Homo sapiens: one gene and its partners. The gene in region 1 interacts genetically with each later gene. Each region holds a gene or a part of one and is shown on either strand. Other genes may lie near its edges.

Region 1 (3,500 bases):
GTGAATTTCTGAGCTCCTAGAATCATAATCATAGAGAAAGCTTAGAGCATTTGAGCAGATGGCAGATACTAAATGTACACTAACCCCGAGATGTGTTAAGACAGTAAGAATTACAAGGGTCAGGCGATAAAACTTGAGTCCATGTGAGGCAGAAATTTTTTTTTTTTTTTTTTTTTGAGACGGAGTCTTGCTCTGTCGTCCAGGCTGGAGTGCAGTGGCGCAGTCTTGGCTCACTGCAAGCTCCGCCTCCCGGGTTCACGCCATTCTCCTGCCTCCGCCTTCTCAGTAGCTGGGATTACAGGCGCCCACCTCCAAGCCCGGCTAATTTTTTCATATTTTTTAGTAGAGACAGGGTTTCACCGTGTTAGCCAGGATGGTCTCGATCTCCTGACCTCATAATCCGCCCGCCTGGGCCTCCCAAAGTGCTGGGATTACAGGCGTGAGCCACCACGCCCGGCCGAGGAAGAAATTTTGAAGTGAAACCCCTGTATAAAGCAAGTTCTCTCACAGAGCTAAAAACTCCATAAAAATGAGACCAAAAACTCTGCCTATTGGCACAGAGAGATAAACTTCCCATATATGAATAAGGATAAATAAGTGCCCTATGAAAATGAAAACCCCAGATTTCAATAGGTTTAGAGCCTAACTATCTTACCTGCATGGTGGGGAAACACCAGAGTTGGCAAATGAAAACCACTGTTACTGAAAGTAAAGTCAGTGGGATCTCCAGGAAAACATGGCATACTAAACGCATGCAGTTTATCACTGCTGCCTCCTGGAAACCCACTAAAATGACAATGAAGAGTAAAAACAGGACATACAAGGATAGAAAGAATGAGAATGAAGCTGGCAACAGACAGAAGCCAACAATGTGAAAACTGCCAATGCCAAGACCATGCTTCCCTCTGCCTGTTCCCCCAGTGTCAATCCTAAACACAGCTGCTCCCAGTCCCACGGAGATCGTCTGGATCTCCACTCCTTTAGCTGCAAATGTCTGTGCAGCTGGGTCCTAATGATTCCCCCTTCCAGTTTTTCCCCTTTCCCTATTTATTCCTCACAAATAGCTATAAAGTGTGCTGATTGAATAACTCCATCATATTTATGAATTAAACATGATGTCATACCTGAAATTTGTTTCAGAATAGTCTGGGGAAGCTGGGGTGGGGAATATGTAGATGACAAAAGATTGTTAACTCGACAACTGTTGAAGTGGGTCATGGGCACATGAAAGAGTTCATTATATTGTTTTTAATACATTGGTGTATGTTTGAAATTTTCAGATTGAAAACAAAACAATCTGTCACTATTCCTGTCTTCCATCTCATACAATAGGTTGGCCACATATAAATACACAAATATGCCGGGTGCAGGGCTCACACCTGTAATCCCAGCACTTTGGGAGGCCGAGGCAGGCAGATCACCTGAGGTCAGGAGTTCAAGACCTACCTGGCCAACACAGTGAAACCCCATCTCTGCTAAAAATATACAAAAATTACCCGGGCATGGTGGCATGTGCCTGTAATTCCAGCTACTCGGGAGGCTGAGGCTGGAGAATTGCTTGAACCCGGGAGGCGGGGGTTGCAGTGAGCTGAGATTGCGCCACTGCATTCCAGCCTGGGCGACGACAGAGCAAGACTCCATCTCAAAAAAAAAAAAAAAAAAACCACAAATAGGCCATTATTAATTGAGAAGCCGTTCTAAAAAATGCTTTCTATTATATAAAGTGATTCAAATAGTAATGATGCTATAATAGGACACATTGCTAGGTCTTAACCTATCAGGATGAAGGACACATAATAGTATTTCTGAAGACAGGGGACCTCAGAGAGGTACATAAGCTGTACCTGGTTCCCTGGTTCCTTGTTCTTAAAGAATTAACTACACCATGCTTTAAGACTGGTCAGCGTAGTCTTAAACATCACTCAAGAAAATAAGGGTCCAGGGTTATTTCCTATCACACACCAAGGTTTTAAGACAACAGTTTATGTTAAACACCAACATTTTGTAGTCTGATGCACTGAAATTTTAGGGTAAAATACATATTTATAAATTTTTTTTTGGGGGGGAGACAGGGTCTCGCTGTGCTGCACAGGCTGGAGTGCAATGGCACAATCACAGCTCACTGCAGCCTCAAACTCCTGGGCTCAAGCAATCCTCCCGCCTCAGCCTCCTGGAGTAGCTGTGACTATGGGCATGCGCCATCTCTGCTGGCTAATTTTTTTTTATTTTTAGTAGAGACAAGGTCTTGCTCTGTTGCTCAGGCTGGTCTGAAACTCCTGGCCAGTCTTCTCACCTCGGCCTCCCAAGGTACTGGAATTACAGATATGCGGCACCATGCCCGGCCTTTGAAGTCTGACACCCATACTAGAATCTGGTATCACATGGTCTAAAAATATAATAGATATATTGATACTAGCTGTAGCATCATGACAGAAAGTAAGAAAAAGGAAAAAGACAAAATTAAATAAATTGATAAAAAGTGAATAAGGAACTACTATATTAGTTTATATGTATATGACAGGAAACAATGAAAAGTAGTAGAATTAAAGCCAGAGGCACTAAAACAACCATGAAAAATTGATACTGCTAAGCCTAAATCAATACATCCATGTGTCCCAAAGAAATAATATTAACAGATGGGCTAATAAACAGATGAGTAGATGGGTGGTGGAGGGAGGACAGGAAAAAAAAATAGTGTAAGCAGTATATCTGTTGACTGTGTGATCTTGAACAAATTATTAGCACCTGTTTATCTCAGTTTTCTTATTTGATTTGCATTTCCATTAAGAGGAGTAGTGAAGTCTCACTGAAAAGCTTTTGGATAGAAACCATCTTATATCAAGGTTATTTAGGTAGTTGTTAATATACCACATTGAAGAGATGGTACTATTAAAAATATAAAAATTCAGTGCCTAAAAAATGCCAGACTATCCCTTTCTAACAATTTAATAAGGTACCAAGGCCAGGCGCGGTGGCTCACACCTGTAATCCCAGCTCTTTGGGAGGCCGAGGTGGGTGGATCACCTGAGGTCAGGAGTTCGAGACCAACCTGGCCAACATCGTGAAACCCTGTCTCTACTAAAAATACAAAAATTAGCTGGGCATGGTGGTGCATGCCTGTAGTCTCAGCTACTTGGGAGGCTGAGGCAGGAGAATCACTTGAACCCAGGAGGCAGAGGTTGCAGTGAGCTGAGATCATGCCACTGCCCTCCAGCGTGGGCGACACAGCGATGCTCCTTCTCAAAAAAAAATATATAAATACCCACTAGAAAATAAGAAATTTACAGGAAATCCTTCGGATTTAAGAATTGAAAATGCATAATTCCAGTTTCAGTATCATGCATTCAACCACCTCTTGTTCCCTTGTGCAACTCAATTCTAAAATGTCTACTTGGCCAAGTGCAGTAGCAATCATGCCTGTAATCCCAGCAATTTGGGAGGTCAAGGCGGGAGGATCACTTGAGCTCAGAAGTTCAAGATCAACCTGGGCAACACAGCAA
Region 2 (3,500 bases), on another chromosome or scaffold:
GGTTTCAGCACAGAACCTGAATGCCAGGAAAAATTCCTGGGCCAAGAAGCTAAAGCTAAAGAAACCTTCCTTTTTTCAACGTTTTTTTTTCTTTCAAACTGTAGGGTCACTTTTGATTGAGGCAAAGGGGTCCTACTGTAAGTGGAAAAGACTCACTCCCCTAACATAAGTTTTCACTGTGGTGGGATGGTGCCGCCCGATATGCTTGATATGCTTTTCCTTCCACATGTTAAGCTAGGAAACCTAACAGGATGTCAGCAGGGCAGTTAACTCTGGACTCAGAGCCCTCAAGGGCATGTGGCAGAACCTCATGGACATCACAAGACCATCAGTCTGAATCCAGGTCGTGGGGGCTGTCATAGCCGAACTCCTTCTGCACATCCAGAGGGTACTTGCTCCACATCCGCTGTCTGCTGCTGCCTCTTTCCTCCTCACTCAGGCTGTTGTAGTCAGCAGAGCCTAGAATGACATCCCGGGAGTGGATTCTAAATGTGATTTTCCTAGGCTACTGCAGGAGCCCCTTCTCTTCTCAGAAAGGTCTGTTTTTGTTCCCGATTGTAATGCAAAATCCTTGCTCAATAAATAAAAAAGAATATAGAATTCTTTTTTTTTTAAAGAAGGAATCACTTTCCTATCATCTAAACCAAGTTCCTTCACACTGGAGTATTTTGTCACTTCTCCCCTCCGTGGAGTATTTTGTCACTTCTCCCCTCCGTATAGGATTTTTTGTTGTTGTAAGAGTTGTAGTCATATTGTAAATATTTTTGTACCTTTCTCCTTTTAACGTGTTATTGACAAACCTCCCCAAAAGAATATGCAATTGTTTGATTCATTTCTCTGTTATCAGACACCAATAAATTCTTTTTGTTGGGCCTTCTTCTCTCTTCTTTAATATAGTTACTACGGGAATTATGTTGTCAGAGCATCTTTCTTCTTCCCCCAGGTATTATGTCTGTGTTGCATCTTTCTCAAAACAGTTGTACATGCAGCAGTTTTTTGAGAAGTTAGATAACTGATTTGTGAAAACTCTGGGCTTATTCCTACTGGCAAACCTCTCTCTTCATTGGTTTCTTGACTGGGGCAGGGGAAGAGACAATGAGCTACATATTTTACATAATCTCAACCACTAAAATTCATGCAGAACCATCTCATTTGGAGAGAAAATGAGGCTCAGTGAGGTGAAGTAACTGCCCAAGAGCCACAGCAAAGTAATGACAACTACAGATTTGAATCCAGGCCTGATGGATTATTACACCCCCAGGAGGCCCCTGGGAAACACTGGTCTTTGGGTCTCCTACAGCATGGCTCAGTTGCGGCTGGGCTGCTGGCGCTCAATGACAGAGAAGGAAAGGCAATTAAGATGCACCTGTCAACTATGCCTGCACCTCAGTCTCAGATCCTACCAGTCCCTCCCGGTCTGGGGCTGCCACCCACCTCTGGAATCCTCATCTCCATCACTGCTCTCCTCCTCTGGGTACTCATTGCGCCAGTTATTCTCACTGTTCTCGTCATCTTCATCGTCGTAAATGTCCTCTGGTTCTTGATCATCATTCACCTACACATCTCAACACAAACATGAGTCCAAGTCAAAACCTCTAAGGTTATGCTCTGGGGGAAGTTGTTAGCATACCAGCTTGAAGAGATATCATGTAAAAGTGCCCTGTGAAAAAACTGCAGACTAGTAGTTTGACTCCATTGCACAAGAGGCTATGAGAGGGAGATAATAGCCCCCTTCCACTCAGAGCCCAGCTCCACAATGATAGGACATGCTGGACCCCATGAGAAGGGAACACAGGGAAAAGAGGAGTGATGGCTCTGAGCGATTCCTTCAAATTCCAAAGGTCAAAACCAAAACCCAAGCGTAAGAGGTGCGGAAAGGCAGGAGGAAGGGCCATGCAGTGGTCCAAGGTGGGTACCTGACTGCAAATCTGTCCTAATGCAGGTGCAGGATGCAGTGCTTCTTGATTATAGTCTGAGCATGACCATTAGGTGCCACCTTAAGTTTTCTTGTTAAGCATTTTAGAATTTGAGAATAGGCTGGGCGCGGTGGCTCACGCCTGTAATCCCAGCACTTTGGGAGGCCGAGGTGGGTGGATCACTTGAGGTCAGAAGTTTGAGACCAGCCTGGGCAACATGGTAAAACCTTGTCTCTACTAAAAATACAAAAATTAGCCAGGCATGGTGGCATGCACCTGTAGTCCCAGCTACTTGGGAGGCTGAGGCAGGAGAATCGCTTGAACCCAGGAGGCGGAGGTTGCAATGAGCCAAGATTGCACCATTGCACTCCAGCCTGGGTGACAGAGCGAGACTCCATCTCAAAAAAAAAAAAAAAAAAGATAATGGTGTCAGCTAGGTGTGGTGGCTCACACCTGTAATCCCAACACTTTGGGAGGCCAAGGTGGATCACTTGAGCCCAGGAGTTCAAGACCATAAGACCAGCCTGGACAACATAGTGAGACCCTGCCTCTACAAAAAAATCAACAAAAATTGGGCATCATGGTGCATGCCTGTACTCCTGGCTGGCTGCTTGGGAGGCTGAGATAGGAGGATTGCTTGAGCCTGGGAGATAGAGGCTGCAGTGAGCTCAGATAGCACCACTGCACTCCAGCCTGGGTGACAGTGTGAGACCTTGTCTCAAAAAAGAAAAAAAAAAAAGAATAATGTCAGGACGTTAGCTTTCTTCATCCGAGGTTTCTCTACTTCTAAGGTACGAATTAAAAAATAGATTTTGTTGTCACTCATGTTAAGAATTTCTGATTTTATCGTCTTTATCTTATCATAAGCCCCATATACATATTTCCCCCCTAAGAATGGATAGCTATAAACAATAAAGGTGATGTTGCAAACCTTGTAAAATATTCATTAATGTAAAAATGATCAATCTAAGATGATCTTTCCCCAAATTCCCTGTACTATAAAGTCAGGTTCCTAAAAGGCACTTAGAATAATTTCTTCCTTTTCAGGAGGAAAAGAACTAAGGACAATGTTGTTCGGGAGTGGAGCCCAGGGAAGCAAAGCATTCTGATTAGATTAAGAGCTTAGGATGCCTCATGCCCCGTCTGCTCATGGGCCCCCTTACCAGCTCCCATTCTTGGCTGTAGGGCTGCACGGAGAGGATGTTCTCAATCCAGCCTGGAGTGGCCGTCTCCAAGTAGTAAATGTCATACACATAGTCATCGTGTTTTTGTTCTTCCTGGCGCCTGACTCCTGGTCCATCCTCAGACACAGTCAATCGCTCACGGATCAACTCTACAGAATTGCAGAGGATCACATCTGGGTCAGATGTCTGTAAAGAAACCACAGATTACACACACACGCATGACCCAAAACATGATGTTCCAAGAGGAGGAACCTATGAGTTGGGTGAAGGAAGGCTCCCTACAGTTTTTTTTGAGACGGAGTCTCACTCTGTCGCCCAGGCTGGAGTGCAGTGGCGTGGTCTTGGCTCACTGCAACCTCCGCCTCCCAGGTTCAAGCGTTTCTCCTACCTCAGCCTCCCA
Region 3 (3,500 bases), on another chromosome or scaffold:
GTAAGGCAAAAATGAAATTAAGCACTCTAAAAAGTAGAAATTAAGTTCTACAAATTTGGTTCCCATTTACAACAATTTCATTAACACATAATGAGTTAAATAGAGACACAATGTATCCAATACCCTCATGATGGTAAAAAAAAAAAAAAAAACTAGTAGCATTTATAGATTGTGAAATCCTTAATAAAACCTATATTCAAAATATGTTCATAGAGAACCAATACCTCTCCTCCTGCATGTAAAAGAACACTTGTTAAAAATAATTAACAAAAATACCAATAAACAATGAAAACCCATTTTGTTTCACTGTGCCCAAAGGTATGACACAAAATATTGGCTACAAGAGGTAGGTTAAAAAGAAAAAGAAAACCAGATTCTCCATTCTTTGTCACTTTTATTCAGTAGTAGGTTTTTTTTCCTTATTTTCAGTGCCAGACACGGCGAGGAGTGATTACAGCCAACTGTTACTAAAACATTTGTTTGCAACATATACCCCCTTTATACCACTGACCCCAAACTGACTCATTTTGTGTGCTTTCATTCTTTCTTTTTTTAATATACCACCACCAAGACCGGGTGGAGGGGGCAAGGGTAAGAGATGAAGGGGAGCAGTCCAGGAGGCCAGAAGAGGAGGAATGCTACAAGCCACAGTAAGAATGAGCTGTATTTAATTTAAAAAAAGGGGGAAGGGGTGTACCCCACAAATGATACAGTAATGAGGATACACAATTAAATCCCATAGCATGACTGAAGGCTTTCACTGTGTTTGACGTCATCACAATGGAAGGCATAAAAAGTGGAGTAAATCAATGTTGATACAGTCCAATCTAGTCCATTAGGCAAGATGGTGCAAGAAGTCATTTAAATTAAAAGTGCCCTACCCTTACCTAAATGGCTAGCAGACATGGAGAACACCACAGTGATGAATCCACAGAGCTTTCTCCATGTAGCTATAACAATGTGTTGTCGAATGGCACACTGTCAAACACTGGAAAGGGGCGCCACAATGGACCTCTCTCTTTTATAGGAACGAATGCTAGATTCAACTATCTCAACTAAGCAGGAAGTGGGTTCTTCTGCTAGGAATGCCAACCCTAATTCACTTTGTCTTGAAATATATACAGATTGTTTGTAGTAGCTACGGCAATGATATTTTCCTTGGGGTGCCAGGCTGTGTGAAGGATTTTCTTATTGAAGTCTAGGCTGTCAACACTTATTTCATCTTTCTTTCGCTTGCCACTTGCACAGACTTTGCGAGGCTTCAGAACTGTGCGAGGCTTATTGTTTTCCCGCGATGCTTCTAGGGTTATGTCTCGCTTTGTGTTTCTGTCAAACATTCTGAAGAAATTATTGTAAGATCCAGTCATGACAACACTGTGAAAATAGACAGTACACTCAGTCAAACAAGCAGAACAAGAAATTGTTTTCAAGTAAAATGATTCGGCAATTAAACCATAGGAAGCTACTTCAAAAGCAGATTTAAACTAAGGGACAGGGGCTGTTGACATCAACTCAATCACTAGAATAAACCAGAAATACGGTACTAATTAACTGGGTTTTCTGCTTATTCTTTTTATGGCTACCAAAACTATCAGCAAAGTTGACAGCATCCTCAAGTAAAACTTCTTAGGAGTGCAGAATTATCGTTGTTAAGTATTTTTGCAACTACAGGCTATGTGATCAACCAGGCCAGCCAGCTTCTCAAAGGAGCAACTATCTGTGGAACTCACAGGTTCTAAAACAAAAGAACCCCGCATGAAGTAGCTGTAGCTGTTCACAAGAAACCAATGCTTTATCTTATGATTTACATTTTTTGGGCCGGGCGCAGTGGCTCACGCCTGTAATCCCAGCACTTTGGGAGGCCAAGGTGGGCAGATCACGACGTCAGGAGATCGAGACCATTCTGGCTAACATGGTGAAACCCGGTCTCTACTAAAAATACAAAAAAAATTAGCCTGGCGTGGTGGCAGGCACCCGTAGTCCCAACTACTCGGGAGGCTGAGGCAGGAGAATGGTGTGAACCCGGGAGGTGGAGCTTGCAGTGAGCCAAGGTCGTGCCACTGCACTCCAGCCTGGGCAACTGAGCAAGACTCCGTCTCGGAAAAAAAAAAAAATTAGCTGGGTGTAGTGGCACGTGCCTGTAGTCCCAGCTACTCAGGAGGCTGAGGCAGGAGAATCCCTTGAACCCGGGAGGCGGAGGTTGCACTGAGCCAAGATTGTGCCACTGCACTCCAGCCTGGGTGACAGAGTGAGACTCTGTCTCATAAATAAATAATCTTCTCAGGGTATTGTCTGGTTCAGATAATCACATTTAATAAATGCTTATGTTATAATCTGCTCCTGAGAATATTAAGTGGTACATAATGTGTGTGTGTGTGTGTGTATAATTTTTTTTTTTTTGAGACGGAGTCTCGCTCTGTTGCCCAGGCTGGAGTGCAGTGGTGCGATCTCGGCTCACTGCAAGCTCTGCCTCCTGGGTTCATGCCATTCTTCTGCCTCAGCCTCCTGAGTAGCTGGGACTACAGGCGTCCGCCACCACGCCCGGCTAGTTTTTTTTGTATTTTCAGTAGAGACAGGGTTTCACCACGTTAGCCAGGATGGTCTCAATCTCCTGACCTCATGATCCGCCGGCCTTGGCCTCCCAAAGTGCTGGGATTACAGGCGTGAGCCACCGTGCCCGGCCTATATATATGTATTTTTCAAGACAGGGTTTCACTCTGTCACCCGGGTTGAAATGTGGTGGCACAATCACAGCTCACTGCAACCACAACCTCAACCTCCTGGGTTCAAGCAGTCCTTGCACTTCAGTCTCCTGAGTAGCTGTGACTACAGGCATATGCTGCCATGTCCAGATAATTTTTAAATATTTTGTAGAGACAGGGTCTTGCTATGTTGCCCAGGCTGTAATATTTTCTTAACAGAACATCATTTTACTTTTACCACTTAGAACATTTTAAGCAAATATTTATAAAAGTATCAGTTTAAAGGGGTGGCAAAATTTTTAAACTGCCCAAGACACTTCCTTGTCAGTTCTATTTGCCACCCATTACTGCTCGACATTTATTAAGTATCCTCACAAACAAAACTTCGTAAGTTTGAAGCTCTTAATTTGGAAAGGGTCTGCTACCGCTGCTTACCAATGGTTCAAATTATTATTGTAAATAAGGATTACAGGATACTGGGGAATTGTTCAAAGTAATACTTACATACAAAGGTCACCTACTGAGTACAAATTATTATCTATTTAGTAATGTCAATTCCCAAAGGACACTTGGCAACAACTTTAATCAAACTCAAGGTAATGCGTGCCCCTGAAGATGACAAAACTGTATTTCTTTAAAAATGGCTTGTGTAATTTAGATTGACATCCCCATATCATCTGAGTTTGCGTGGTTTTAATGTATTAGGACACCTAGGCTGTGGCTACTTGAAACTTTAAAAAGGTATCATTAGGCCAGCATTTCTGTGGTATTCCTGCCAAAAATGTATAGCCTGAATCT
Region 4 (3,500 bases), on another chromosome or scaffold:
GGAGAGATTGGGGTTGTATATGCTTAGTCCATCTTGTCCAGAACTGAAATCATTCATATCTTTGGCCAGTGTTTCCACTGGGCTTCCTATTTTTTCTTTATTGAACTTCAGTAATCATTTACTCTAGATTGTAGTCTCTGTTTATAACGTTGTAAATATCTTCTAGTTTCTCATCTCTTTGTTAATTCTGTCTTTGGTGTCTGTAGTTGAAGAGAAATCCTTAATTTTAATGTAATGATATCCATTAAATGTTTGCCTTGTATTTTCTTTTTGGGAATTTGCTTAAATAATTTTTCACCCCAAAGTCTGAGAGTATCCTACATTAAAAAAAATTTAGAGTTTAACCTTTCACGTTTGAGTCTTTTGTTGTCATCATGAAGTTTACCTTTATATAAAGTATGTGGTATGAACTCAGATTTATTTTTCTCTAAATAGTGGGTCCATTTTTTTTTTTTTTTTTTTTTTGAGATGGGGGTCTCGTTCTGTCGCCCAGGCTGGAGTGCAGTGGCGCAATCTCGGCTCACTGCAAGCTCCGCCTCCTGGGTTCACGCCATTGTTCTGCCTCAGCCTCCCAAGTAGCTAGGACTACAGGCGCCCACCACCACGCCTGGCTAATTTTTTGTATTTTTAGTAGAAATGGGGTTTCACCGTGTTAGCCAGGATGGTCTCGATCTCCTGACCTCGTGATCCACCCGTCTTGGCCTCCCAAAGTGCTGGGATTACAGGCGTGAGCCACTGCGCCCAGCCCTATATTTTTAATATTGCCTATAAAAATATGATATTCCTCAATGATTATCAAAGAATTTAAATTACACTGTTTGCATATATATATGTGATCTATTTCTAGACCCTCTCTTATGTTTCATTGGCCAGTTGGTCTGTTCTTATACCCACCCATTCCACATTTTTTTAGTCTTATGGCTTTGTAGTGTATCTTAATATCTAGTAGCATGAATCTCTAATCTTGGTTCTTCTTTTCAAAGTTTTCTGGGTCTTTATGGGTCTTTATTCTTCCATAAAAACTTTAGAATCAATTTGTCAGAATGCTAGAATTATGGTTGGAATTGCATTAAATGCAAAGACTAATTTGTGGGAATTGAATTTTAATATTAAATCATTTCATCCATGAATGTGGTATGTCTCTTTAATCCTTGCAGTCTTTTATGTCCTTTAAAATAATTTTAAAATATTCCCTTTTAAAATCTCATGCGTTCTTTCTTGGATCAATTCCTAGATGGCTTTCTTGGATCAATTCCTAGATGGTTTTAGTATTTGTTAATAAATACTGTGGCTGATAACATGTCTAATTTTTTTAGTTATTACTGGTAGAAAATAATGTTGTAAGTACTCTTGTATCTAAAAACCCTGGTGATTTTTCAAAATTGGGATGGGGAGATTGCCTAGGTTTTGTAATATAAAACATGGCCACCTAATTTTGTCCTTTCAGCATGGCCTGGCATTGGAAAGTTTCTGTAAAAGGTGATGTGTGCAGGTGGATGTGCTAAAATATGTCTTGCACAATCTTAACCTCTTTCTTGTAACATGTAAATGTAAGCCAGTGGCATAGAATGATTAATTATGATAGAGACAATTATGGGATTAATTCTGATTGGGATGCTTTAATAAAATAGTGAGATTTTAACCTACCCTGTAAGGTTAAGACTTCCTAAGGCAGAATAGTGGGATTTCAGTCAGGTAAAACAGCAAGTCAAAGATCCAGAGGCATAAAAATGTATCCTGCTGCATAATTAATATCATTCCTTTTCCTCTGCACTCTGATTACTCCCTCCAAGTATTCTGTAACAGTTAATGTTGAAATGTACTGTACTTGCTGTCAGTAGTTAGATACAGGGCTAATTGTCTATTAAGACACCCCCTAGATATCATCTTACACATCTTAACTTTTTCCACTCAGACCTGGTTGTTGGCTGTATTCCATGTTACTTCAGATTCCTTAATTATTTCTGAAGTATGTGTTTTCTTTTTTTCCTTTTGAGATAGGTCTCTCCCTCTCTCTCTGTCTCTCTCTCTCCCTCCCCCTCCCCCTCTCTCCCTCTCTCCCTCTCTCCCCCTTTCTCCCTCTTCTCCCTCTCTCTCCCTCTCCCTCTCTCCCCCTCTCTCCCTCTCTCCCCCTCTCCCCCTCTCCCCCTCTCTCCCTCTTCTCCCTCTCTCTCCCCCTCTCTCCCTCTTCTCCCTCTTCTCCCTCTCTCCCTCTCCCTCTCTCCCTCTCTCCCCCTCTCTCCCTCTCCCCCTCTCCCCCTCTCCCCCTCTCCCTCTCCCTCTTGCCCATGCTGGAGTGCAGTGGCATGATCACGGCTCACTGCAACCTCAAACTCCTGGGCTCAAGTGATCCTCCCACCTCAGCCTCCTAAGGAGCTGGGATTACAGGCATGTAGCACTACACCTGGTTAATTTTTTATATTTTTTGTAGAGACAAGGTCTTGCCATTTTGCCCAAGCTTGTCTCAAAATCCTGGTCTCAAGCACTCCTCTTGCCTTGGCCTCCCAAAGTGCTAGGATTACAGGAGTGACCCACTGTGCCCAGCCGTGTGTGTGTGTGTGTGTGTGTGTGTGTGTGTGTGATGGAGTCTCACTCTGTTTTTTGTTTTTTGTTTCTGTGAGATGGAGTTTCACTCTGTTGCCCAGGCTGGAGTGCAGTGGCACGATCTCGGCTCCATCCCCCAGGTTTAAGTGATTCTCCTGCATCAGCCTTCCAAGTAGCTGGGATTACAGGTGCATGCCACCACACCCAGCTACTTCTTTGTATTTTTAGTAGAGACGGGGTTTCACTATGTTGGCCAGGCTGGTCTTGAACTCCTGACCTTAAGTAATTTGCCTGCCTCGTCCTCCCAAAGTGGTGGGATTACAGGTGTGAGCCACCACGCCCAGCTTATTTTTTCTATGTATTGCCTCATTGCTAAATTTCCTAGAGCTCTAAAGATATCTTTGCATGATTCTTTTAAAAAAATTTTAGGTATGTAAAAAGGGAAGAAATATAAAGCACAGATTTATAGGGAAAGAGTTTATATTTTGAGAGATGAATCTCAGGCTTATCCCAAGATTAGAATTTCCATACAGGTGTAACTGATAAATAGTTGTGATATTTGATTAACCCTCCCCCCCCCAATTTTTTTTTAAACAGATCATATCTGAAGATATTAGTGAGCTACAAAAGAATCAAACTACATCTGTAGCCAAAATTGCACAATACAAGAGGAAACTCATGGATCTTTCCCATAGAACTTTACAGGTAGTAATTTGGATTTTCCCCCCCAGTGTTTATAAGACTATGTGTGTGAAATAATGTACTAAATATAGATTTTTAAAATAGAAAAAAAAATACTAAAATGAAAGAATAATGTGAAATTACAAGTACCGAATTCTTTCAGTAAAACTTTGAAATTGGAAAACAAGTCTCATAGGTTTGAGTGAGGAGAATAAAAATATCCTAAAGTTCGTATTTTAGTGACAGTTTGAGGGAAAGCAGTGAAGAAATAAAGC
Region 5 (3,500 bases), on another chromosome or scaffold:
TAATATAATGTATGAATGTTTATGAAGTTATCAAGGAAATTTGAACACTACGATATTTAGTAAAAAAATTAACAGTAATTTATTAATATTAGGTGTGATAATAGCACGGTAGTTACATTTTCAAAAAGACACCTTATCTTTTAGAGATCCCTATGGAAATTTATGAATAAACTTATGTCTAGAATCTGTTTCAAAATAATCCAGGTGTAGGTCAAGTCGCTGGAGGCATGGATATAACACTGTCCATCAGCTGACACTGAAGCGAAATGGTAGGAGTTCATTTTACCATTTTTTCTGCTCTTATACATGTTTGACATTTTCCATAGTAAAAAAAAAAAAATTTTTTTTTTTTTTTTTTTTTTGAGAGAGTCTTCCTCTATTGCCCAGGCTGGAGTGCAGTGGTGTGATCTCAATTCGCTACAAACACTGCCTCCTGGGTTCAAGCAATTCTCATGACTCAGCCTCCTGAGTAGCTGGGACTACAGACACGCATTACTAGACCCGGCTACTTTTTGCATTTTGTGTAGAGACAGGGTTTCACCATGTTCCCAGGCTGGTCTTGAACTCTTGACTTCAAATGATCCACCCACCTCAGCCTCCCAAAGGCCTGGGATTACAGGCGTGAGCCACTGCATCCAGCCCAAAAATCAATTTTTAAAAAATATTATCTAGCCGGGCACGGTGGCTCACGCCTGTAATCCCAGCACTTTGGGAGGCTGAAGTGGGCAGATCACGAGGTCAGGAGTTCGAGACCAGCCTGGCCAATATGGTGAAACCCCATCTCTACTACAAATACAAAAATTAGCTGGGCGTGGTGGCGCGTGCCTGTAGTCCCAGCTACTCAGGAGGCTGAGGCAGGAGAATCGCTTGAACCCGGGAGGCGAAGGTTGCAGTGAGCCAGGATCGTGTCACTGTACTCTAGCCGGGGCAACAGAGTGAGACGCTGTCTCAAAAAAAAAAAAAAAAAAAAAAAATCTAATTTGGGCATATCTCAGAAGTTCATAAACACAGAAACATTAATATAGTAAAATTTAGTTTATTGCCATGTATTTATTTTAAAAAGCTTTCTTAGTATTTATGTCCATAAAAGCAAACAAAAGCACAAAATTCACAATGTCTAATTTTAGCAATTTACTCAAGAAGTGAAAAAAGCACCATCTATCTCATTTAAAGACATATTTCCAATATAATTTAAATACATTAAAATTGTTTTGATCAATTAGGTACTAAAAACAACTTTAATGATAAGTCAATTGAGAAGAATTTGTCATAGAATTCTTTTAAATATTTTAAAGTTTCTTTTATGCATGCATTTTTGTTACAAACAGGGTAATAAAAAGTTCTTAACTATACCATATACTATTAAGATACACTTCTGAGGGGAAAATAAAAACAGTAAAACAAGTTCAAAGAAAAAAGAATAATGGAAAATTTCCAAATGCTGAACTGGTATTTTTTTACAGGATAGTAGGTATCACATTGCTATGCTATTTAGATTCCATTGATACATTTAAAAATAACACAATTTTGTATTGAAAAAAATTTCTTAATGTCGCTTGCAGACATCCAGAGGGGTATATTATTTTCAAAATTCTTATAGCATTTTCAAAAGTTTAAAAACTCTTTCCTAAGGGATATCTTCTTAATCTTCTTTAACCTTTACGTGTACATCTTTTCTATGTTGTACTGTATTTTGTTTAAAGAGAATATTAGGCCGGGCATAATGGCTCATGCCTGTAATTCCAGTATTTGGGGAGGCTAAGGTGGGAGGATCATTTGAGCCCAGCAGTTTGAGACCAGCCTGGGCAACATGGTGAAACCTCATCTCTACAAAAAAATTGACAAATTAGCCAGGCATGATGGTGTACACCTGTTGTCCCAGCTACTTGGGAGAAGGCTGAGGTGGGAAGATCACCTGAGCCTGGGGAGGTAGAGGCTGCAGTAAGCTGTGATCACACCATTGCACTCCAGCCTGGTTGACAGAGGGAGACCCTGTCTCAAAACAAAAACAAAAAAAGAGAAAATTAAAAACTTCTTGGCTGGGCACAGTGGCTCATGCCTGTAATCTCACAACTTTGGGAGGCCGAGGTGGATGGATCACCTGAGGTCAGGAGTTCAAGACCAGCCTGACCAACATGGTGAAACCCCGCCTCTACGAAAATTACAAAAATTAGCCAGGTGGTGTGGCACGCACCTATAATCCTAGCTACTCAGGAGGCTGAGGCAGGAGAATCACTTGAATCCAGGAGACAGAGGTTGCAATGAGCCGAGATTGTGCCATTGCACTCCAGCCTGGGTGACAGAGTGAGATTCTGGCTCAAAAAAAATAAAATTAAAAAAATCTTAATTTCAAATAGAAATTTCACATACTAAGTACCAAAGAGGTTCCGAATAAATCTGCACACTCACATTAGTGTAATTCTTATCTTGGCATACGCTTCTTCCTGGTTAGGGCTAGATCCTTCCAAAAGACAATACATTCAGAGTTTTTGTAATTCTCAACAATAAGTACTGGGATGGATAATTCAGTTTTAGGCTTTATTCAAAAGTTACTTGTGACTAAAACTGTAAGTATAAAAATAATTTTTTAAAGGAAGGGATAAATGTACAAACTCTTAGCAAGTAGAGAAATAAGAGTTATGGACATCTTCTAGTGAGTTGCCTTAACTCATAAGTACTGGTACTCTTAACCCTAGTTAGTTACAGTGTAGCCAAGCTTTTAAAAAAGAAAAGGAGAAAAAGAAAAAAACAGCTATTTTCACAAGCTTCTTACCAGCTATGATTGTTGTTGCTTGTCGCCTCACATTATTTTTATCCATGTATTCACCATAGTCTATTTTCCCTTCCAAATAAATTCGAGACCTGATATAAATAAAATGTACAGTTTTTAGTTGAGATCTTAATATGCTTTATAAGAGTCAGGTCAGGGTGGTACTGAGTATATGACAAGGATGAAATATATAATCATATATAAGCTAATTTTTGCTACCACTTCTCAAGGTTCAGGATTAGGAGTACTGAAACAGAGTGTCCAAACAGACTTGGTAACATCTAGGTAAAACAGACAATGTTTTCATCTGTCAGCTATTTCTCTTACGGAAGTTAAAAAATAAAACAAAACAGTTCAAAGGGAAATTTAGTGGCAACATTTAAATCTCTAGGAATAATTTCCAATGTATCATTTTCCTTGACCTTTGATTTTGGAGTCCCTAACAGACTTGATTTTCACTTATTTATCAATTATTTTCTATGACCTTAGAAACTTAGATGATTAAAATTCAAAATATGGATTTGTAGTTAGTTTAGTATAATATTACCCTGAGTTAATTACTAAGACTATTTCTACACTGTATCAGCTTAGTATACCACTTAGAGGTAATTACTAAGACTATTTCTACACTATCTAGAGGCTAAACTAGATAACAAACCTAATCGTGATTTTCAAGAGTGGAAAGATGACAATAGTACCAGTTTTGAGAGTCTACCACCACCAAAAAAGT
Region 6 (3,500 bases), on another chromosome or scaffold:
ACACCTGAGTGTCAAATATGAGTTTACCTTGATCACACTAAACAGAAAAACTACTGGAAAGACAAACAGCAGCTTTCCAAGAAATTATTTCTCAAAGTTGTAAATGTTATCTAAATATTATTCGCAGCCATTTTCTTATATGTGTTTTTTTTTTTTTTTTGAGCAAAACTAAGTGGGTCTGGGGAATACAGCCATATCCTTATAATCTCCTGAAATTAAGTAAACTACAAGATTAATTTCAAGATATATCTCCCTACACAGAAAAATCTTAGGTGTTACTAAACCAAATACTCTTCATTTTATTGATATACGTTTCTTTTTGGCGGTGGGGAGACGGAGTCTTGCTCTGTCACCCTGGCTGGAGTACAGTGGCATAATCTTGGCTGCAATCTCCGCCTCCCAGGTTCAAGCAATTCTCCTGCCTCAGGCTCCCAAAGAGCTGGGATTACAGGCATCTCCCACCACTCCCAGCTAATTTTCATATTTTTAGTAGAGACGGGGTTTTTCCATGTTGGCCAGCTTGGTCTTGAACTCCTGACTTCATGTGATTCGCCCGCCTTGGCTTCCCAAAAGTGCTGGGATTACAGGCGTGAGCCACTGCGCCCAGCCCATTTTATTGATACACATTCAAGTTTAAAATTACAATTTAAGGAATTTATGCCTTGGAAGAAGTACATGACACCTGAGACAACTTTTCAAAACTATCAAATGAATCATCTTTCATTATCTCAGATATTCCTAACCTCAGTCTCTTCTTTTTTTCTTTTTGTCTGAGACGGAATTTCGCTCGTTGCCCAGGTTGGAGTGCAATGGCGTGATCTAGGCTCACCACAACCTCTGCCTCCCGGGTTCAAGTGATTCTTTTGCCTCAGCCTCCCAAGTAGCTGGGATTACAGGTGCGTGCCACCACACCCAGCTAAATTTTGTATTTTTAGTAGAGATGGGGTTTCACCATGTTGGCCAGGCTGGTCTCGAACTCCTTACCTCAGGTGATCCGCCCGCCTTGGCCTCCCAAAGTGCTGGGATTACAGGCGTAAGCCACCATGCCCAGCCACCTTCAGTCTTAATACACAGTGGTGTGTCAGAATCACAGTAACAAGGATATAAAAAGCAATGTCTGGCCGGGCGTGGTGGCTCATACCTGTAATCCCAGCACTTTGGGAGGCCAAGGCAGGCGGATCACCTGAGGTCAGGAGTTTGAGACCAGCCTGGCTAACATGGCAAAACCTCATCTCTACCAAAAATGCAAAAATTAGCCAGGCTAATTGTTCAAGAATCAAAACTCTCAAATACTGTTTTAATATAAATTGCAGCAGATTTAGAGTTTTCTCTGAAACACCATTTCTGATGCCCTCAGCCTTCCAATATGCTTTCTTGAGGGTAGCCACATGGCAAGCAGTCATGAGACTCATACTGCAATGCAGACAGAGAACTTCCGTCTTGATCTGTCAACAGATACTGAAGGCCTCCACTTATTCAACAACTTAATACGCACTGACATACACAACAGTCTTTTGTAGAATGGTATTCAATAAGGTTCCAAGAATAACATTTAACAGTTAAAAGAAACAAAGACACAATTTCTAACATGAATAAGCTGCCAAAAAAAATTAGACGCAACCAGCAAATGTTAAGTACATTATAATTCTCTTTCTATAGTTTCAAAACATGGAAAACGACTCTTCAAATGTAACTACAATATTTAACTTCTTAAAAGAACTGAAAGAAAAAATATCTGAATAGCAAATGAAGCCGTGTTGAGGTTTTAAAAACTGAGATATGTGCCAGGCATGGCGGCTCACACCTATAATCCCAGCACTTTGGGAGGCCGAGGCAGGTGGATCACCTGAGGTCAGGAGTTGAAGACCAGCCTGACCAACATAGAGAAACCCCGTCTCTACTAAAAATACAAAATTAGCCAGGCGTGGTGGCGCACGCCTGTAATCCCAGCTACTCGGGAGACTGAGGCAGGAGAATCGCTTGAACCAGGGAGACGGAGGTTGCGGCGAGCTGAGATCGCGCCACTGCACTGCAGCCTGGGCAACAAGAGCGAAATTCTGTCTCAAAAAAATAAACAAATAAATAAATAAACCAAAACAAAACTGAGGTATGAGCACACAGGTATTTTGTTCTATTATTCTCTAGTTGTATTTAAATGTTTGAAGTACTTCACAAATACACCCCTAAAAAGTTTTCAAAGTTCCCTTCCACATTATAAGCCCAGACTCTTAGACAACAGAATTTTTTGGTTTTTTTTTTTTTGAGACAGAGTTTCGCTCGTTGCCCAGGCTGGAGTGCAATGGCGTGATCTCAGCTCACCGCAACCTCCGCTTCCCCGGTTCAAGGGATTCTCCTGCCTCAGCCTCCCAAGTAGCTGGGATTACAGGTGCACACCACCACGCCCGCTGATTTTTGTATTTTTAGTAGAGACAGGGTTTCACCATGTTGGACAGGCTGGTCTCAAAATCCTGACCTCAGGTGATCCGCTCGCTTCGGGTTCCCAAAAAGTGCTGGGATTACAGGCATGAGCCATCACGCCTGGCTTTTTTTTTTTGAGATGGAGTCTCACTCTGTTGCCCAGGCTGGAGTGTGGTGCCATCTTGGCTCACTGTAACCTCCACCTCCGAGGTTCAAGCAATTCTCATGCTTCAGTCTCCCAACTAGCTGGGATTACAGGTACACGCCTCCACACCCAGCTAATTTTTGTATTTTTTGTAGAGACGTGGTTTCACTACATTGGAGAGGCTGGTCTCGAACTCCTGACCTCAAGTCATCTGCCTACCTCAGCCTCCCAAAGTGCTGGGATTACAGGCATGAGCCACTGCACGCAGCCGACACAAAGAAATTTTTGATGCCTGGTATATCATGCTTACCACTCTAAGGATTTTAATACAAAAGTCAAATGAAACAAAATGGCAGAGCTGAAAGATTTCCTTGCCCATAGTCTTTTGAGCACGTTTATAGCATTTTAAGTTTGTTTTTTGAGACAGAGGCTTGATCTGTAGCCCAGGCTGGAGGGCAGTGGTGCAATCTCAGCTTACTGCAACCTCTGCCTCTCAGGTTCAAGTGATTCGCCTGGCTCAGCCTCCCAAGTAGCTGGGATTACAGGCGCCGGCCACCATGTCCAGCTAATTTTTGTATTTTTAGTAGAGATGGGGTTTCACCATGCTTGCCAGGCTGGTCTCAAACTCCTGACCTCAGGTGATCCGCCCACCTCGGCCTCCCGAAGTGCTGGGATTACAGGTATGAGCCACTGCACCTGGCCCCGCATTTTAAGTTTTATATAAGCATAAAAGTCCTTACATTTTGGATGTTCACCTGTTCATTTTATATAAATACAAAGTTTATTTCCTCCTGCTCCAAGGTCTCAAATAAATATTTGGGAAGTTAAAAAAATAAAACTTTTCTTTACCTTTTTGATAGTAGTTACTTGTCCAAGATACCCAGCTGTTCCACTTTCAATAAGAGGAACATCAGCTGCCAGGCACATTCTATTAACA
Region 7 (4,014 bases), on another chromosome or scaffold:
GGGGAGGGTTGAGTTAGGCCCTAAGGATGAGGGGAGTTGCATTCGCCAGAGAGGCAGGAGGGGCGACGAGAAAGTACATGCCAGAAGCCCAGCAGGAAAGAGCTTTTCAAAACGTTTGAAGATTGGGAGCAAGTTGTGTCACGGGCCCCTGGAGGGTGTGGTGGCAGTTCTGGAAATTGTGTCACCCAGGGAATGGCAGAGGGAGAGAAGCGAGGCAGGGGATGGTGCTGTGTGGCTGTGGTAACAGGCTGGGTGCCATGGCTTTGAGGGGAGTGCAGGATTGTAGGGAGGAAGAACCTGCCAGCCACCTGCCATTTGGGTTCCATGTTCCAGCAGCCACAGTAAAACATAGAAAAAGAAACAAGCAGGATTTTAGTATGACATTGTATTTAACCCAGCGTATCCAAAATATCACCATTGCGGCAGGCGCACTAGCTGCAATGCTGGGGTGCTGTGTGCAGCGGGAGCTACTGGTTTGTGTTTGTGTTTTTGTTTTGGTTGTTGTTGTTTTTGAGACAGTGTCTCCCTGTGGCCCAGGCTGGAGTGCAGAGGGGCGATCACAGCTTACTTCAGCCTTGACCTCCTGGACTCAAGGGACCCTCCCACCTCAGCCACTTGAGTAGCTGGGACTACAGGCGCTTTGTATTTTTGTATTTTTTGTAGAGACGGAATCTCGCCATGTTGCCCAAGCTGGTCTCGAACTTGGGAGCTACTGGCGTGGACAGTGCAGGCCTGGGGGAAAGGTTGTCACCCTCACTGTGTGTCACTGGGGCTTTTACAAAACACTGCTTGGTGGGCTCTTCCCTCCCTCCACAGGTTCCGTTTAGGGGGCCCAGCCACAAGACCCCAGGCTCTAGAATCTCTGCCCTTGAGCATCAGGCTAAAGAGTTTAGATTTGTCTTTTTTTGTTGTTCTTTTCTTTTTTTTCTTTCTTTTTTTTTTTTTTGAGATGAGGTCTCACTCTGTTGCCCAGGCTAGAGTGCAGTGGTTTGATCACGGCTCACTGCAGCCCCGACCTCGCAGGCTCAAGCGATCCTCCCACCTCAGCCTTCTGAGTAGCTGGTACTACAGGTGCGCCACCACACCCGGCTGATTTTTTTGAGTTTTAGTAGAGACGAGGTCTTGCTATGTTGCCCATGCTGGTCTCCACCTCCTGGGCTCAAGTGATCCTTCTGCCTCATCCTCCCCAAGTGTTGGGTTGACAAGCGTGAGCCTCTGTGCCCGCCCTAGGCTTGTCTTCTAGATCGACTGTTCTCAAGGTATGCTTGGGGGACCCTGGGCGTCGGCCATATCAAAATCATTTTTATAATAATGCTATGATATTCGGCTTCCTTTTGTTCCAGAGATCACCACGAAGAAGAGAAAACTGGGGAAGAACCCAGACGTTGACACAAGCTTCTTGCCTGATCGAGACCGTGAGGTAAAGGCTGCCTGGCCCTGACCCCGGCCTCGACTCCAGCCCTGGTGGAGACCCTTGCTTAGGGAGCCAGGCTCTGCGTGCACCCTGAGCAGCCCTGGGCCTCACCTGTCTGCCTGCTCCCTCTCCCAGGAGGAGGAGAATCGGCTTCGGGAAGAGCTGCGGCAGGAGTGGGAAGCCAAGCAGGAGAAGATCAAGAGTGAGTGTTTGCGGAGTCAGACGCGAGGGGCCTGGGCCCAAGCCAGCTTCCCTGTCCACAGTCTCCTGGGTGGTGCGCTGAGCCCCAAGGCTGCTCTCAGTGGGGCTGGAGACCAAGAGGCAGCTCTGCCTTGTAGGTGAGGAGATCGAGATCACCTTCAGCTACTGGGATGGCTCTGGGCACCGGCGGACAGTCAAGGTAGGCAGCGTGCAGCCTGCTTCCTGCTCACCATGGGCCCAGCCTCCCTCAGGTTCCGTGGGAAGGAACTGACCTTCCTGACTTGGGAAGCCCCAGGGATCCTGAGGATAACTGGCTCCAGGGCCTGGCCCCCTGTCTGGGGAGTGAGGCCCAGGCCTGGCTGAGGCTCTGCAGCGTCTGGCAGGGCCCTCTGGGCCTCTGCCTTGTTGAGAGCCCTTCTGCAGGCTTCCGCCTTCCCTTCCCAACTCCTGGATTCCCGGATACAGATGAGAAAGGGCAACACCATGCAGCAGTTCCTGCAGAAGGCGCTCGAGATCCTTCGGAAAGACTTCAGTGAGCTGAGGTGTGAGGTGTGCGTGTGTGCACGGTGGTGTGTGTGGCACCTGTGGCTCCAGCCTGGGTGCCAGACACCCAGTGTGATGTGGGCGCTGTCTGGGCAAGCAAGCAGCGTGCTGGGCACTCTCCTCCCAAAAGAGGGGGTCAGGCTCCTCTTCCCTTCCCTCCCACCAGAGAGCTTTGCTGAGAGCGGCCTGCCTTGGTTCCTTAGCCCAAAGGTGGAGGGTGCTGGGCGCCAGTCCTGTGCTCACTAAACCATGGAGCTTCCCTCACAGCCAACTGGCCGCTGCTTCCCAGCCCCAGCATGGGCTCTCCTGGGCTGGCTGTCTCCTCCCTCCCTGGGCAGGGGTGCTGTCCTCTTGCCCACGCCCTCCTGCCTTCCTCCCTCAGGTCCGCAGGGGTGGAGCAGCTCATGTACATCAAGGAGGACTTGATCATCCCTCACGTGAGTCCCTTCAGCCCCAGTACCCGCAGTGGGTGCAGCACCCTGGGCTTTGGCTCAGGCTGGTGGGGGCAGTGTGCGCAGGCGGGGGGTGTGGGGAGGGGCCGAGATGGACCATCAAGACGCCGCTTTCCTGCCCTTGGCTCCCAGCATCACAGCTTCTACGACTTCATCGTCACCAAGGCACGGGGGAAGAGTGGTGAGTGCCGCCGACCCAGCCGCCCCCATAGCACCTTGCCGCCGATGTTGTCACTGGGGCAGCAGCGGGACATTGGGCTGTCACTTCTCCCCTGCAGGACCACTCTTCAACTTTGATGTTCATGACGATGTGCGGTTGCTCAGTGACGCCACTGTGGAGAAGGATGAGGTACAGCGTAGGGGGCCGTGTGAGGGGGAACGGGTGTCCCTGGGCTATGGAGGAGAAGCCAAGGGAAGGGGAGGTCAGCAGGCGGCCCTGTGCCCTCTTCCTCCCTTAGTCCCATGCAGGCAAGGTGGTGCTGAGGAGCTGGTACGAGAAGAACAAGCACATCTTTCCCGCCAGCCGCTGGGAACCCTACGACCCTGAAAAGAAGTGGGACAAGTACACGGTGAGGAGGGGCTGGCAGGGACCCCTCCAAGTTGGGGACGGCAGCCAGCCCCTGCTCACCCCTCGCCTTCCTTGTCTCCTCTGCCCACCTTGTCCTCACACTAGATCCGCTGAGCATCCAGGAGGCTGCGCGGCCCCGGCTCCTCAGCTCCCTCAGTGTGCCCCGTGGTGTCACCGGGACTCCAGGCACCCGCTCCCCTGCGACCATGCCAGGCACGCTGGGAGGAGGACGGCAGCTGCTCGTGTCCTGCCCCTGCCACATCAGTGACTGCTTTATTCTTTTCCAATAAAGAAGTGCACGTGTCAGAGCTGGAGCGCCTGCATTGTGAGAAACCATTTGTGTTCGGACCAAATTCATTTGTCATTTTGACCATTTAAAACTGTACAATTTGGTGGCATTTAGCACATTTGCCATGTTGTGTAGTCATCACCCTGGTCTGCTTCCAGGACATTCTCATCCCTCCAAAGGCCCTGTGGCCATAGGCAGGCTCCTCCCCTCACATCCCCCCACCAGGCTCTCATGTGCTTTCTGTCTCCATGGATTGACCTGTTCTGGACGTGTCATACGTGCCTGGGGAGTCTGTCACCGTGGCAGCCCCACCATCCCTGAGGTGTCTTTGTGGCACTGTGCTTCTTGACCGTGGGCACCTGTCCTTGGGCGGTGGTGGCTCTGGTGGGTGGGAAGGGGGTTCCTCCCCAGGCCTCTCTCCCAGGCCCTTGGGCTCCTGTTGAGTTTCCCGTAGGGGACGTGGCCGTCCTGTGGCCACGAAAACCCATCCTGCCTTCCTTGCTGTGGGCCGTCCCAGCACAGTCGTTCTGCTGTGGTGCCCTGTGCT

The links.
Region 2: changes in LEO1 (region 1) and SLC7A6OS together harm fitness more than expected from each alone (negative genetic interaction), as found in Homo sapiens cells (one large-scale study listed by BioGRID).
Region 3: changes in LEO1 (region 1) and PPP2R2A together harm fitness more than expected from each alone (negative genetic interaction), as found in Homo sapiens cells (one large-scale study listed by BioGRID).
Region 4: changes in LEO1 (region 1) and NUP54 together harm fitness more than expected from each alone (negative genetic interaction), as found in Homo sapiens cells (one large-scale study listed by BioGRID).
Region 5: changes in LEO1 (region 1) and SSBP1 together harm fitness less than expected from each alone (positive genetic interaction), as found in Homo sapiens cells (one large-scale study listed by BioGRID).
Region 6: changes in LEO1 (region 1) and UBA2 together harm fitness less than expected from each alone (positive genetic interaction), as found in Homo sapiens cells (one large-scale study listed by BioGRID).
Region 7: changes in LEO1 (region 1) and FAM50A together harm fitness more than expected from each alone (negative genetic interaction), as found in Homo sapiens cells (one large-scale study listed by BioGRID).

Annotation. Positions count from the first base shown.
Region 1 is NC_000015.10:51,954,779-51,958,278, forward strand, and holds part of LEO1 (RNA polymerase-associated protein LEO1), read right to left. Parts: intron 1-3,500. UniProt on the Homo sapiens protein: Component of the PAF1 complex (PAF1C) which has multiple functions during transcription by RNA polymerase II and is implicated in regulation of development and maintenance of embryonic stem cell pluripotency.
Region 2 is NC_000016.10:68,300,947-68,304,446, forward strand, and holds part of SLC7A6OS (probable RNA polymerase II nuclear localization protein SLC7A6OS), read right to left. Parts: intron 3,287-3,500; coding exon 3,080-3,286; intron 1,564-3,079; coding exon of another isoform or gene 1,556-1,563; coding exon 1,435-1,555; exon of another isoform or gene 1,431-1,434; intron 874-1,430; exon of another isoform or gene 460-873; coding exon 329-459; 3' UTR 1-328. UniProt on the Homo sapiens protein: Directs RNA polymerase II nuclear import.
Region 3 is NC_000008.11:26,368,008-26,371,507, reverse strand, and holds part of PPP2R2A (serine/threonine-protein phosphatase 2A 55 kDa regulatory subunit B alpha isoform), read right to left. Parts: intron 1,375-3,500; coding exon 1,095-1,374; 3' UTR 1-1,094. UniProt on the Homo sapiens protein: Substrate-recognition subunit of protein phosphatase 2A (PP2A) that plays a key role in cell cycle by controlling mitosis entry and exit. Involved in chromosome clustering during late mitosis by mediating dephosphorylation of MKI67.
Region 4 is NC_000004.12:76,124,398-76,127,897, reverse strand, and holds part of NUP54 (nucleoporin p54), read left to right. Parts: intron 1-3,141; coding exon 3,142-3,249; intron 3,250-3,500. UniProt on the Homo sapiens protein: Component of the nuclear pore complex, a complex required for the trafficking across the nuclear membrane.
Region 5 is NC_000007.14:141,744,858-141,748,357, reverse strand, and holds part of SSBP1 (single-stranded DNA-binding protein, mitochondrial precursor), read right to left. Parts: intron 2,863-3,500; coding exon 2,774-2,862; coding exon of another isoform or gene 2,697-2,773; exon of another isoform or gene 1,021-2,696; intron 1-1,020.
Region 6 is NC_000019.10:34,434,881-34,438,380, reverse strand, and holds part of UBA2 (SUMO-activating enzyme subunit 2), read right to left. Parts: coding exon 3,413-3,500; intron 1-3,412. UniProt on the Homo sapiens protein: The heterodimer acts as an E1 ligase for SUMO1, SUMO2, SUMO3, and probably SUMO4. It mediates ATP-dependent activation of SUMO proteins followed by formation of a thioester bond between a SUMO protein and a conserved active site cysteine residue on UBA2/SAE2.
Region 7 is NC_000023.11:154,447,141-154,451,154, forward strand, and holds the end of FAM50A (protein FAM50A), read left to right. Parts: intron 1-1,343; coding exon 1,344-1,420; intron 1,421-1,549; coding exon 1,550-1,616; intron 1,617-1,752; coding exon 1,753-1,814; intron 1,815-2,080; coding exon 2,081-2,157; intron 2,158-2,540; coding exon 2,541-2,595; intron 2,596-2,742; coding exon 2,743-2,791; intron 2,792-2,888; coding exon 2,889-2,959; intron 2,960-3,068; coding exon 3,069-3,179; exon of another isoform or gene 3,180-3,246; intron 3,247-3,283; coding exon 3,284-3,292; 3' UTR 3,293-3,514; downstream 3,515-4,014. UniProt on the Homo sapiens protein: Probably involved in the regulation of pre-mRNA splicing.